Linked DNA regions of Homo sapiens. The protein of the gene in region 2 purifies or fractionates together with the protein of the main gene of each other region. This does not show direct contact. Each region holds a gene or a part of one and is shown on either strand. Other genes may lie near its edges. The genes, in order: IREB2, CCNL2 and GNAZ.

Region 1 (3,724 bases), on a different chromosome or scaffold from region 2:
AAATTTTTTTATCACAGAAAATTTCAAACACAAAAGAAAACAAAACCATGAATGTCCATGCGCCTATCACCAAGCTATAACTTAACAGATGCTCCGTTTCTTCTACAGTCAACCCCATTAGATTATTTTGAAGCAAAACTGAGATAATTTTAACAGCATACTTTTCAGTACATTTCACTAAAAGATGTAGACTCTTAAAAAAAAATCTTTACACCAAAAAAAAAAAATCACAATAATTTCTTAACATCAGATAGTCAATATTGTCACTGATTATTTCCAAACTAAGTTGGTTTGTTCAAATCAGGATCCAAATGCAGTTCATAAATGTGTTCAGTTGATCTCAAGTGTTTTAATCTACAGTTGACCTTTAAACATGAATTTGAGTTGTGTGGGTCCACTTATACATCGATTTTTTTTCAACCAAACACTGACAGAAAATATATTATTCACAGGATGCAGAAAACTGCAAATACGACTTTTCATATATGTGGCTTCTGCAAGGCTGACTGTAGGAATTCAGTATGTGTGGATTTGGGTATACATGGGTGGTCCTGGAACCAGTCCCACATCTATACTGAAGAATGACAGTATATGTTCCCTCTCCTTCCTCCTGCTTGTGCTCTATCTGATGCAATAAAGTTACTTGTATAGTTTTCTGTACCCACATTGTGTTGACTGCATCTCCATGAATCATTTAACATGTTCTTCTGCCTTCTGTTCTTGTAAATCACATGTCAGATCCAGTGGTTTGATAAGATTTGGGTTTTTAATTTTTGGCAACAATGCTTCATAGGTCATATGTACTTCTATTAGGAGGCACAAGATAGCCAACTGTCTTTTCCTGGAATGTTACCAGTGATTGCTCATTGTGGTCTAGATTGCTTATTAGAGACCGTAAAATAGTGATACTATAATTCACCCATTCCTTCTTCATTTTTTAGGTACAAAAGTTCTATAAAGAAAAACTTTCCAGCAGGTATGTTGGCTCTTGCCTGCAATACCAGCACTCTGGGAGGCCAAAGTGGGAGGAATGCTCGAGCCCATGTGTTGGAGACCAGCCTGTGCAACAAAGGGAGATCTCATCTCTACAAAAAATTAAAAATTATCCAGGCATGACGGTGCGAGCCTGTAGTCCCAAGCTACTCAGGAGGGTGAGACAGGAGGAGTGCTTGAGCCCACGAGTTCCAAGCAGCAGAGGGCCAAGTGCCACTGCCTTTCAGCCCAGGCAAGAGTGAGACCCTGTCTCTAAAAACAAACAAACAAACAAATGACAAACTTTCCTTCATCAATGATTTGGTTATGCTGAAATACATTCCATACATGAAAGGCTGGTTAAAGAATTGATTATTTACCAGTTTTCAAGCTAATGAGCTGGTCCTGACCCTGAGACCTTTAGACAGAAGCCTGATGGTCTGTGACCATCAGGTAATCTTTGTAATTTTATTTTTGGTAATCTTGGTAATTTTTGGTAAAATTGTGTACATTTTCCAGTCCCAGATCTGGAATCAATAATTTCTCCATGAAGCACTGGTTCACTATAGTGGGAAACAGTATTTAGAAATCATAATCTGGGTGCGGGGGGTATTGCTACTGGATTAGTGACCATATATAACTTTTTAGGGAAAAATAACTGAACATAAGTATCTCAACAATCAACAACTGACTTTTATCAGCCTCTGATTTGGTCTTTTATGCAGAGGCAACAATATTCTAAATTTGTGCATTTAAATTTTTACTTCAGGATGGGAGTGGTAGGAGGTTTGAGTGTCTTTATTTTTAGAAAATTCTAATTGATGAGCACTACTGGATTAAATGTGCTAAGAAATACATATCAGGAGGCATAATAATTACAAAAATTGTACATTTGAGAGAAGTGTTGACTGTTTTTCTTTTTTGGAGGTATGTCACAATTATGATGAAGATGGAAATCACAACCAAAAAAATATTTACAGGAAAGGAAACTTATTTCTCACCACTTTATAATAAAAGCTGTGCAATATTATCACATGTCAACACAAGCTACATTGACATTTTGGCTGGGCACGGTTGCTCATGCCTGTAATCCCAGCAATTTGGGGGGCCGAGGTGGGCGGATCACTTGGTCAGGAGTTTGATACCAGCCTGACCAACATGGTGAAACCCTGTCTCTACTAAAAATATAAAAACTTGCTGGGCATGGTGGCGCGTGCCTGTAATCCCAGCTAGTTGGGAGGCTGAGGTAGGAGAATTGCTTGAACCCGGGATGCAGAGGTGGCAGTGAGCTGAGATCACACCACTGCACTCCAGCCTGGGTGACAGAGTGAGTCTGTCTCAAAAATAAATACATAAATAAATACATACATAAATAAATAAATTTCAATGAAAAAGCTTGTCATTTTAATTACTCAAGCATCAAACAAGCATCCAATAAGCTAATCAGGTAGCAGTACTACAAATCCTGCTTTTAACAAAACTTTGTCTCTATTGTCAAAACAGTCCTTTGATAACAGGGCAACTCTACATGATTAATCATGTAGAAATGAAATCTTACCAGTTTTAAATTTATATCTCCAATATAAATGGCCTTTACGTTTATTGTTCCTATAAAATTTTAGGCTCATGAAGCAGAAATTCATTGTCTTTTGATTTGTACATATCATTCCCAGCCTCACACACGTACATGTTATAGCCCATAAAATACACATTTAAATTCCTTACTCCAATAATGGGAAGCTGGTTTTAACCAAATGAGCAGGCTTCATTTGGTAGGTAAAACCAAGCTGACTTTTCAATAAAGTAGCACTGAAAAAGAAAAATCTTATTTCCAATCAGCTGTTTATTTAGACTATAAGGGCTCAATTTAAAATTGCAATTTCATTTTCTAAAGTCACAAGCAAAGACAAGTACAGAAGGTACCCCCCGCCTCCCCACCCCGCCACTCTCCATTCTTGCTTAAGACAAACACATTGGCAGTCAGATTACCTACGATAGCATGTATTTACTGGAAAAAAGGAACAAGACCAATAGAAGCCTCTTAATCAGTAAGAAACAAGAAAAAACAAAAACACTCTAAAGCCATGTACACATACCCTCTGTTTGTCAAATACTTAGCGGCAGCACTATTCCTAGCGATACTTCCTGCAGGTGATATATGATCTGTTGTGACAGAGTCTCCCAAATATAATAAGACATGGGCATTTTCAATAGCCTGGAGTGCAATTGGCTCTTTGGTCTAGAAGGTAAAAGTTCAAGGCATTTAACTCTTTACAAGACTTCTTAGTTTATAACAATCTTTAAAAGATCAAATAGTAAAACAGTACTTACAAGTTTATCAAAAAATGAAGGGCATCTGATATAAGTAGACTTTAAGTCCCATGGAAACAAAACTGAATCCGGTGCTTCTAAGGAATTCCACCGTTTATTCCCCATCTGTGAATACAGTTTTCGTTGATGAACCAAAGCAAAGATAAAAGGACTCAGAAAAAGAGGCGCATGAAAATGATCAAGGGAATAAAATAGTACTTAGGTCACAACAACAACAACAAAAATAGGCCTTATCCATTTGGAAAGAAAATTAAGAGTGTATTCTTTTCTTTTTTTTAAAAAATTTTAAATTTTTATTTTTGCCCAGGCTGGTCTTAAACTCCTGAGCTCAAGCGATACGTGGGCCTTGGCCTCCCTGAGGGTTGGGATTATAGGCATTAGCCACCATGCCCAGCCAAAACAGTGTGTTCTAAAAAATCAT
Region 2 (3,724 bases):
GGGTCATATTTTTGCTGACTGAATTGTCTGGTGCTATGACATGTTTAATAGAGAACCTATTTTGACTTTTCTTTTCTGTACTCTTTCAATCAAAGGGTAGCCTCTGAGGGTAAGTGACTAAGACTTCTCCTCTGCTGTCCAAGCGCTTTGGTGCAGGGACAGCGGCATCTTCAGCCAATCCAGTGCAGGCTCTCCACCGAAGGCTGGCTCTAGACTGGTGGTACGCACATAGCATAGCCATGGCCGACTCCTGCTGTGGTTCTCTGACGATTGTGCTTCTTGTTAATCCTCTGTCGTGCTTTGGTAATCGTATTGATTAGAGTTGGTAACTGTCTTGACTTGAATTTTGTCCCTTTAAAACTGCTGTACCTGTATGATAAAGATGCAGTACCTTTCTCTTAAAAAAAAATGCTATGGAAAGCTGTGAGAATTGAAGAGACAAATTGGCTGTGTCAGTGTGGGGTTATGTCATGATTTCTAGAAGCCCTGAAGTTGCTCTTTTGAGCAGCTTTGCATGACACGCTCTGGTAAAAGGTGTGCATCTTTAAATTATTTCATGGATACTTTGAAAAATATTGTATCACTTCAAATACAGCAATAAGTTTATATGTTCTCAAGATTTCATTTGTTTTTAAGAATTTTAAGTTCGTGGATTAATATCACTACTTGAATACTGACAGTTGTTGATTAGACACCGAAAGGTTACTGATTGTTGAATGTATCTGTGTTAGAGCTGTGCACTGGCACGCTTGCATCAGGGGCTGGGGCCACACGGCCGCCACACAGATTCCCCCGTGATGCCTGGAGCTGCTTCCAGAGCCGGGTGTCTCCAAGAGGCACCTGTAGGACTTCCCATTTAGAAATCTCTTGAGTGGGTTTGTATGTTACCTTCTCCAAGGTTTATTTAGGACAGAGATATTGCTGGAAGGTCATGGGTCAGATTCCCTCACAACCCACCTCGTCTGCGGGTGCAGCCCCACTCCAAGGCTCCCCGTTATTGGGGTATGTGAGGAGCAGTAAATATAAAACCAGTTCAACTGTCCTCATGGAATCACCCTTTCTGTTTTTGCAGTATTCATAAAGCTAGTGTAAGGTCTGGTTTTAGTCTATTAAATCTTAGAGATCTAAAGGAAATGCTCAAAATGTAGCCAGGTTTTAAATGCTTTAACTTTTAAAAAATGTAAATTTTTGTATGTTTATAGCTTCTAAATATGAAAGTTAAAGAATGTACTGTGATGAAATGTTCAGTATTATGTTGCTTCTCAGTATCATGTTGCTTCTCAGTATTGTGTTGCTTCTGATTCTATGAATGTTCATTTTAAGACCCCTTGTTGAAATGGGACAGTTGGCAGCGGCTCTGATGAGCCCGAGAAGAGGCCTGCCCTTGGGTGCGGAGTCTCCCTCCGCACGATGCTCCCACGCGTCCAACTTGCACCCAAGGGGCTTTTCCCTCTTCCAAGTGGACTCCTTCAAGGAAGCTGCAGCTCGGTCAGCAGAGAAGGGGCCTGCCGCCAGCGCCCTGGAGGAAGAGGAAGAGGAACCCAAGAGGATGGCTTGTCTCCCAGCAGCCACACCGGCTTTGTGCTCAGCCAGTTCATTTGAGTTTGCATGTTTCTCTGCACTATGGATTTTGAGCATTTAGATTTCTTTAATCAAAAGCGTTTTAGTGACTCCAGTAGACATTTTCTTTCTGAGGCATCGTGCTTTGCATGAGAGCAGGCCAAGGTTGAGGGGAAAAGTAAAGTTAAAGTCGGTTCTCTTTCATAGCAACACGTATTGTCTGACATTCAGCCAGCTTTTTTTTTTTCTAATAATTTCTGTGCCTTTCTGTCCTGTATTTACTGTATTTAGAAAAAGCAGCTAGAATATTTCTCCATTAACTCTTGAGATTCACAGGACTGTCTAGCTCTGAGTCCTAGCAATAGACTCCTTAGAGGAGTAGTACGTTTATCTAGATTTTCTCTAGATAATGCAGGCGGAAGACCTGGGTTCCCGGGTGGGGCATTGCAGTTCTTCCTGTGTTTGGCTTCCAGGAATTACATGAACGACAGCCTTCGCACCGACGTCTTCGTGCGGTTCCAGCCAGAGAGCATCGCCTGTGCCTGCATTTATCTTGCTGCCCGGACGCTGGAGGTCAGTGTGTTGCTACTATGGAGAGATTCTAGTCTGATTTTTTTTTCTCCAGCCTCCAGTAAACTTTACTGTGTTATTCTTCAAATTACTCTAATCTGGGCCAAAGCATTTTCGTGACCAACAGGCTGTTTTTTAATTGTCCTGAGTCTTGCTGGCCGTGAAGTTGAGGAAAGTGTAATGATGATAGTGTTTGTTTTTACAGATCCCTTTGCCCAATCGTCCCCATTGGTTTCTTTTGTTTGGAGCAACTGAAGAAGAAATTCAGGAAATCTGCTTAAAGATCTTGCAGCTTTATGCTCGGAAAAAGGTTCTTCGGCATTTTTTCATGTAACGTATGCGTTTGTGTTTGGCCAGAAACACCTGGTTCTGAACGGACACCTTCTGGCTTTTGCAGGTTGATCTCACACACCTGGAGGGTGAAGTGGAAAAAAGAAAGCACGCTATCGAAGAGGCAAAGGCCCAAGCCCGGGGCCTGTTGCCTGGGGGCACACAGGTGCTGGATGGTACCTCGGGGTTCTCTCCTGCCCCCAAGCTGGGTGAGTCTGTTAGAGTGCAGGAATCCACTCCCCACAAAGGCAAAGACTGGTGACTCTCCCCCGCCTCCATTCTGGGGTATGTGCTCCTTCCAGACATTTTTTTTTTTTTTTTTTTTGAGACAGGGTCTCTGTCACCCAGGCTGGAGTATGGTGGTGTGATCGCAGCTCACTGCAGCTTCCAACTCCTGGATTCAAGTGATCCTCCCACCTCAGCTTTCTGCATAGCTAGGACTACAGGCACATGCCACCATGCTTGGCTAATTCTTTTTGTTTGAGACAGAGTCTTGCTCCAGCCCAGGCTGGAGTGCAGTGGCGCAATTTCCTCTCACTGCAAGCTCCGCCTCCTGAGTTCACACCATTCTCCTGCCTCAGCCTCCTGAGTAGCTGGGACTGCAGGTGGCCGCCACCACGCCTGGCTAATTTTTTGAATTTTTAGTAGAGACGGGGTTTCACCAGGTTAGCCAGGATGGTCTCGATCTCCTGACCTCGTGATCTGCCCACCTCAGCCTCCCAAAGTGCTGGGATTACAGGCGTGAGCCACCGTGCCCAGCTGTGCTTAGCTAATTCTTTATCTTTTTAGTTGAGTCTGGGTCTTGCTATGTTGGCCGGGCTGCTCTTGAATTTCCTGGCCTCAAGTGATTGTCCTGCCTCAGCGTCCCAGAGTGCTAGGAGCATAGGCACCTGGCCTTTCTGTTGATTAGCAGGGAGTATGACAGGTTGTCTGAAATGCTTTTGTTTATCCTGCTGCCCAGGTAGCTTGTCATCTGATGAAGGTGTTATAGTGTGGGGCCATAGATGATACACGTCATCAGACCTAGAGTTCAGTGTGATGCAAAGGGCCTGTCTGCAGTTCTTTTTTTTGAGATGGAGTCTCGCTCTGTCGTCCAGGCTGGAGTGCAGTGGTGCGATCTCAGCTCATTGCAAGCTCCACCTCCCGGGTTCATGCCATTCTCCTGCCTCAGCCTCCTGAGTAGCTGGGACTACAGGTGGCCGCCACCACGCCTGGCTAATTTTTTGTATTTTTAGTAGATATGGTGTTTCACCGTGTTAGCCAG
Region 3 (3,500 bases), on a different chromosome or scaffold from region 2:
TGGATTTCCCCGCAGCACCACGTGCAGCCCCCAGCTCCTTGGTCTCAGCCCAAGCCCCCCTCTACCTCCTTCTGCAGGAGTGAGGCAGCCCCTGCCCACTGTGCTTAGGCACCTCACGGTGCTCCCACAGCCTGAAGCCTCCACCTTGCTCTGGTCCCTGCCTATCTGCTGGCTCCTGGGCTGGCCCATCAGAGTGCCCTCAAGGGAAAGCAGGGGCCAGGTCTCCCTCCTGGTGCTTTTCCTCCCTGTGATCAGAAGTGACCCAGCTCCTGCGGGGGTAATGAGAGTCAGGGAGGCGCTCAGTTATCCCAGGGCTGGGCCGAGGCCTGGCCACCCGTGTAAAACAGGGCAAGGCTGAGCTCTATCAGTGCTGTCTGGGAGAAGGGCCCCAGGGGGCATCACAACAGGGTGACCTTATTGAATCCTAACTGGATGCGGTAGAAGTGAGTCCAGCATGGGGGCTGGGTGGGCAGAGGCCTCGCACACACCCTCCTCTCCCTCATGCACCTGGCTTCAGGTGGACTGTCCAGGCAACAGCAGACATATGTGTTACACCATGGTGTGGGCCCTACAGCGCCCCATGGAGGAGAGGGGGTTGGATGGATTGTTGCCGGCTCATTTTCCAAGGCCAGTCTCTGCTGCTTTGCTTTCAGAAGAGCTCCCTTTCACTGTCCAGCCTGAGGTGGGGCTGCGGGGAGGAGGCTCACGCTTTTCTCTGTGTTTGGCAGGTGAAGGGCTGGATGCACAGTGGGAGCCGGAGGCGGGGGGCTGCAGGGAGCACACCAGCGACCGGCCCTCCAACCCTCCAGCCACTCAGCAACATCGCCACAGCAACCAGCAACCAGACGGCAGCAGCCGAGGCAAACACAAGCGGACGGCTTCCCACCGTCGCCGAGGACAGGGAATGACTACGGCAAATCAGGCCACTTTGCCAACTAGGGAGGTGGAGTGTCACTAGTGGGGAGGGGCGGCCACCGCCCGCTGCACAGAGCGCCATGCCGGCTGGAGAAGAGGCGCTGGGGCAGGGGCTGCAGTGTGGCTCGGCCTCACCCCCCTGCTGGCACTGAGTGCCTCCAGGGCAGCTGGGCTCTTGTCTGCCTGGTCTCAGTGTCCCCTGTGGCAAGAGGGAGAGGTGCCCCATCCCGTGCTCCTTGTCTGGGCCCGCTGCTGCCAGACCATGGGATGTCGGCAAAGCTCAGAGGAAAAAGAAGCAGCCCGGCGGTCCCGGAGAATTGACCGCCACCTGCGCTCAGAGAGCCAGCGGCAACGCCGCGAAATCAAGCTGCTCCTGCTGGGCACCAGCAACTCAGGCAAGAGCACCATCGTCAAACAGATGAAGATCATCCACAGCGGCGGCTTCAACCTGGAGGCCTGCAAGGAGTACAAGCCCCTCATCATCTACAATGCCATCGACTCGCTGACCCGCATCATCCGGGCCCTGGCCGCCCTCAGGATCGACTTCCACAACCCCGACCGCGCCTACGACGCTGTGCAGCTCTTTGCGCTGACGGGCCCCGCTGAGAGCAAGGGCGAGATCACACCCGAGCTGCTGGGTGTCATGCGACGGCTCTGGGCCGACCCAGGGGCACAGGCCTGCTTCAGCCGCTCCAGCGAGTACCACCTGGAGGACAACGCGGCCTACTACCTGAACGACCTGGAGCGCATCGCCGCAGCTGACTATATCCCCACTGTCGAGGACATCCTGCGCTCCCGGGACATGACCACGGGCATTGTGGAGAACAAGTTCACCTTCAAGGAGCTCACCTTCAAGATGGTGGACGTGGGGGGGCAGAGGTCAGAGCGCAAAAAGTGGATCCACTGCTTCGAGGGCGTCACAGCCATCATCTTCTGTGTGGAGCTCAGCGGCTACGACCTGAAACTCTACGAGGATAACCAGACAGTAAGTGGGGCCGGGGGTTTTCCTCTGCTTGTTCCTGCTGTCGTGGGTTCCTGGAAGCAAGAGGACTCGTGAGGTCCAGGACAGTCTGCAGCCAGAAAGGGAACCAGGCGCAGGCCTGGCCCTGCTGCACGATAACTGAGGCAGCTCCAGCAAGGTGGGGGCAGAGGGAACAGGGTGTGGAGTGCAGGTGTCATGTCCCATGCCTGAAGTACTCAGGGTGTGGAGGCCACAGGGCAAGAGAGTGTGAGGCTCCGCCGGGCATCCATGATCAATCCATGTGATAGTTTGGCAAATCCATGAAGCTCCTGCCAGCACCAGTCTCCTACCAGCATATAGGTCCAGGAACAGCAGCCACCCCTGCAACCCCATCTTGAGTCTGCAAATCTGGCAGAGATGGGGTTAAGAGCTGTTTAGAAGGGATAATCCCAGGTCCTGGTGGAAAGGGGACGACGTAAAAGCAGGTGTTGGGATTCTTTCACAGTGGCATGGGCGCAGCCCGAGGGAGACCTGGACCCAGTGTGAAGCGGTGGGGGCTTGAGAGTGGAGTTGCTGGAGAGGGTGGGGAGCCGGGTGAAGCAGCAGGGCAGTGTGCTGAGGCCCAGCCAGGACAGAAGGTCTAGCACACGAAGGGGGCCACAGCCAGGAGTGGCAGCGGTGGAGGCCGTGGCAGGCAAGGGAGGGGCTGTCTTGCCCAGCAGGATTCCCTGAGCACAGATTTCAAGTCTGCCCTTAAGAGAGAGGCCTTTGACCCTGGGGATGGGGGAGTGGGGGCAAACAAGGAGTCACGAAGTTGTGGGTACCCTGGGGCTAGGGGAGGGTGATGCTGGGAGACAAGGGCTCAGCCTCTCCACTTGGGAGCACTGGCCTCCGAGGTCACTCCTTGCTTCACCCAGTCCTAAGGCAAGCTTTATTCTTTAGGTTCAGCGGAGAGCAACAATGGTTCTAGCTTTGGACCTGTGCCCCAGCCAGGGAACCTGGACAGCTCTAGGCAGTGGCCATGGTGCTAGGAGCCTGAGTGTTCTGAGAGAGAGGATCTTTGGCTTTCCTCAGGCAGCTGGGGAGGCGGGCTTGCCTCCCTCCCCTCCTCGCATCAGGGGTCTCCCTGGAACTGTGCCTAGGTGTTGATGGTGTGCCTGGGGGAAACGAATGACGGACGGGCAGGCAGGTGTGTACGCAGGCGGCTGCGTCCACCCTGTTCCCAGTGTGTATCTGTGTGCTCTCCAGGGTTCTGGCCCCTTACCCTGTGGTTGCCACAAGTTCAGCCCCATGTGTGGTTCTGGGCAGAGGGGACATCTCAGCAGATGAGTGAGGTCAGGCTCCCTTGATGAGGCATGGCCGTGGGCAGAGCGCTTGGGGCTGAGAAGCTGCAAGGCAAAGTGAGGTGCTCAGGCCAGACCCTTGGGACAGTGCCATGGTGGGTCTGCCAGTCACACGGGCTTGCGCCACTGGCCTCACCCATCACCACAGTGGCAGGCGTGGCAAATTCCCCGGGCACCAGGCCTGGCTCCCAGTTGCATCCTTTGACAGGCCGTGCCCACAGGTGTGCTGGACACAGGAGGCAGGATACCTGGGTCCTGAGTCAGTCCAGTTTTTCATGGAG

The links.
Region 1: the proteins of CCNL2 (region 2) and IREB2 purify together in Homo sapiens (affinity purification with mass spectrometry; 3 studies listed by BioGRID and IntAct, with this or other methods). This does not show direct contact.
Region 3: the proteins of CCNL2 (region 2) and GNAZ purify together in Homo sapiens (affinity purification with mass spectrometry; 2 studies listed by BioGRID and IntAct, with this or other methods). This does not show direct contact.

The regions. Positions count from the first base shown.
Region 1 is NC_000015.10:78,490,106-78,493,829, reverse strand, and holds part of IREB2 (iron-responsive element-binding protein 2), read right to left. Parts: intron 3,409-3,724; coding exon 3,304-3,408; intron 3,212-3,303; coding exon 3,069-3,211; intron 1-3,068. UniProt on the Homo sapiens protein: RNA-binding protein that binds to iron-responsive elements (IRES), which are stem-loop structures found in the 5'-UTR of ferritin, and delta aminolevulinic acid synthase mRNAs, and in the 3'-UTR of transferrin receptor mRNA.
Region 2 is NC_000001.11:1,389,175-1,392,898, reverse strand, and holds part of CCNL2 (cyclin-L2), read left to right. Parts: intron 1-94; exon of another isoform or gene 95-95; coding exon of another isoform or gene 96-117; exon of another isoform or gene 118-1,309; coding exon of another isoform or gene 1,310-1,602; exon of another isoform or gene 1,603-2,033; coding exon 2,034-2,133; intron 2,134-2,335; coding exon 2,336-2,440; intron 2,441-2,527; coding exon 2,528-2,669; intron 2,670-3,724. UniProt on the Homo sapiens protein: Involved in pre-mRNA splicing. May induce cell death, possibly by acting on the transcription and RNA processing of apoptosis-related factors.
Region 3 is NC_000022.11:23,094,519-23,098,018, forward strand, and holds part of GNAZ (guanine nucleotide-binding protein G(z) subunit alpha), read left to right. Parts: intron 1-728; 5' UTR 729-1,177; coding exon 1,178-1,900; intron 1,901-3,500. UniProt on the Homo sapiens protein: Guanine nucleotide-binding proteins (G proteins) are involved as modulators or transducers in various transmembrane signaling systems.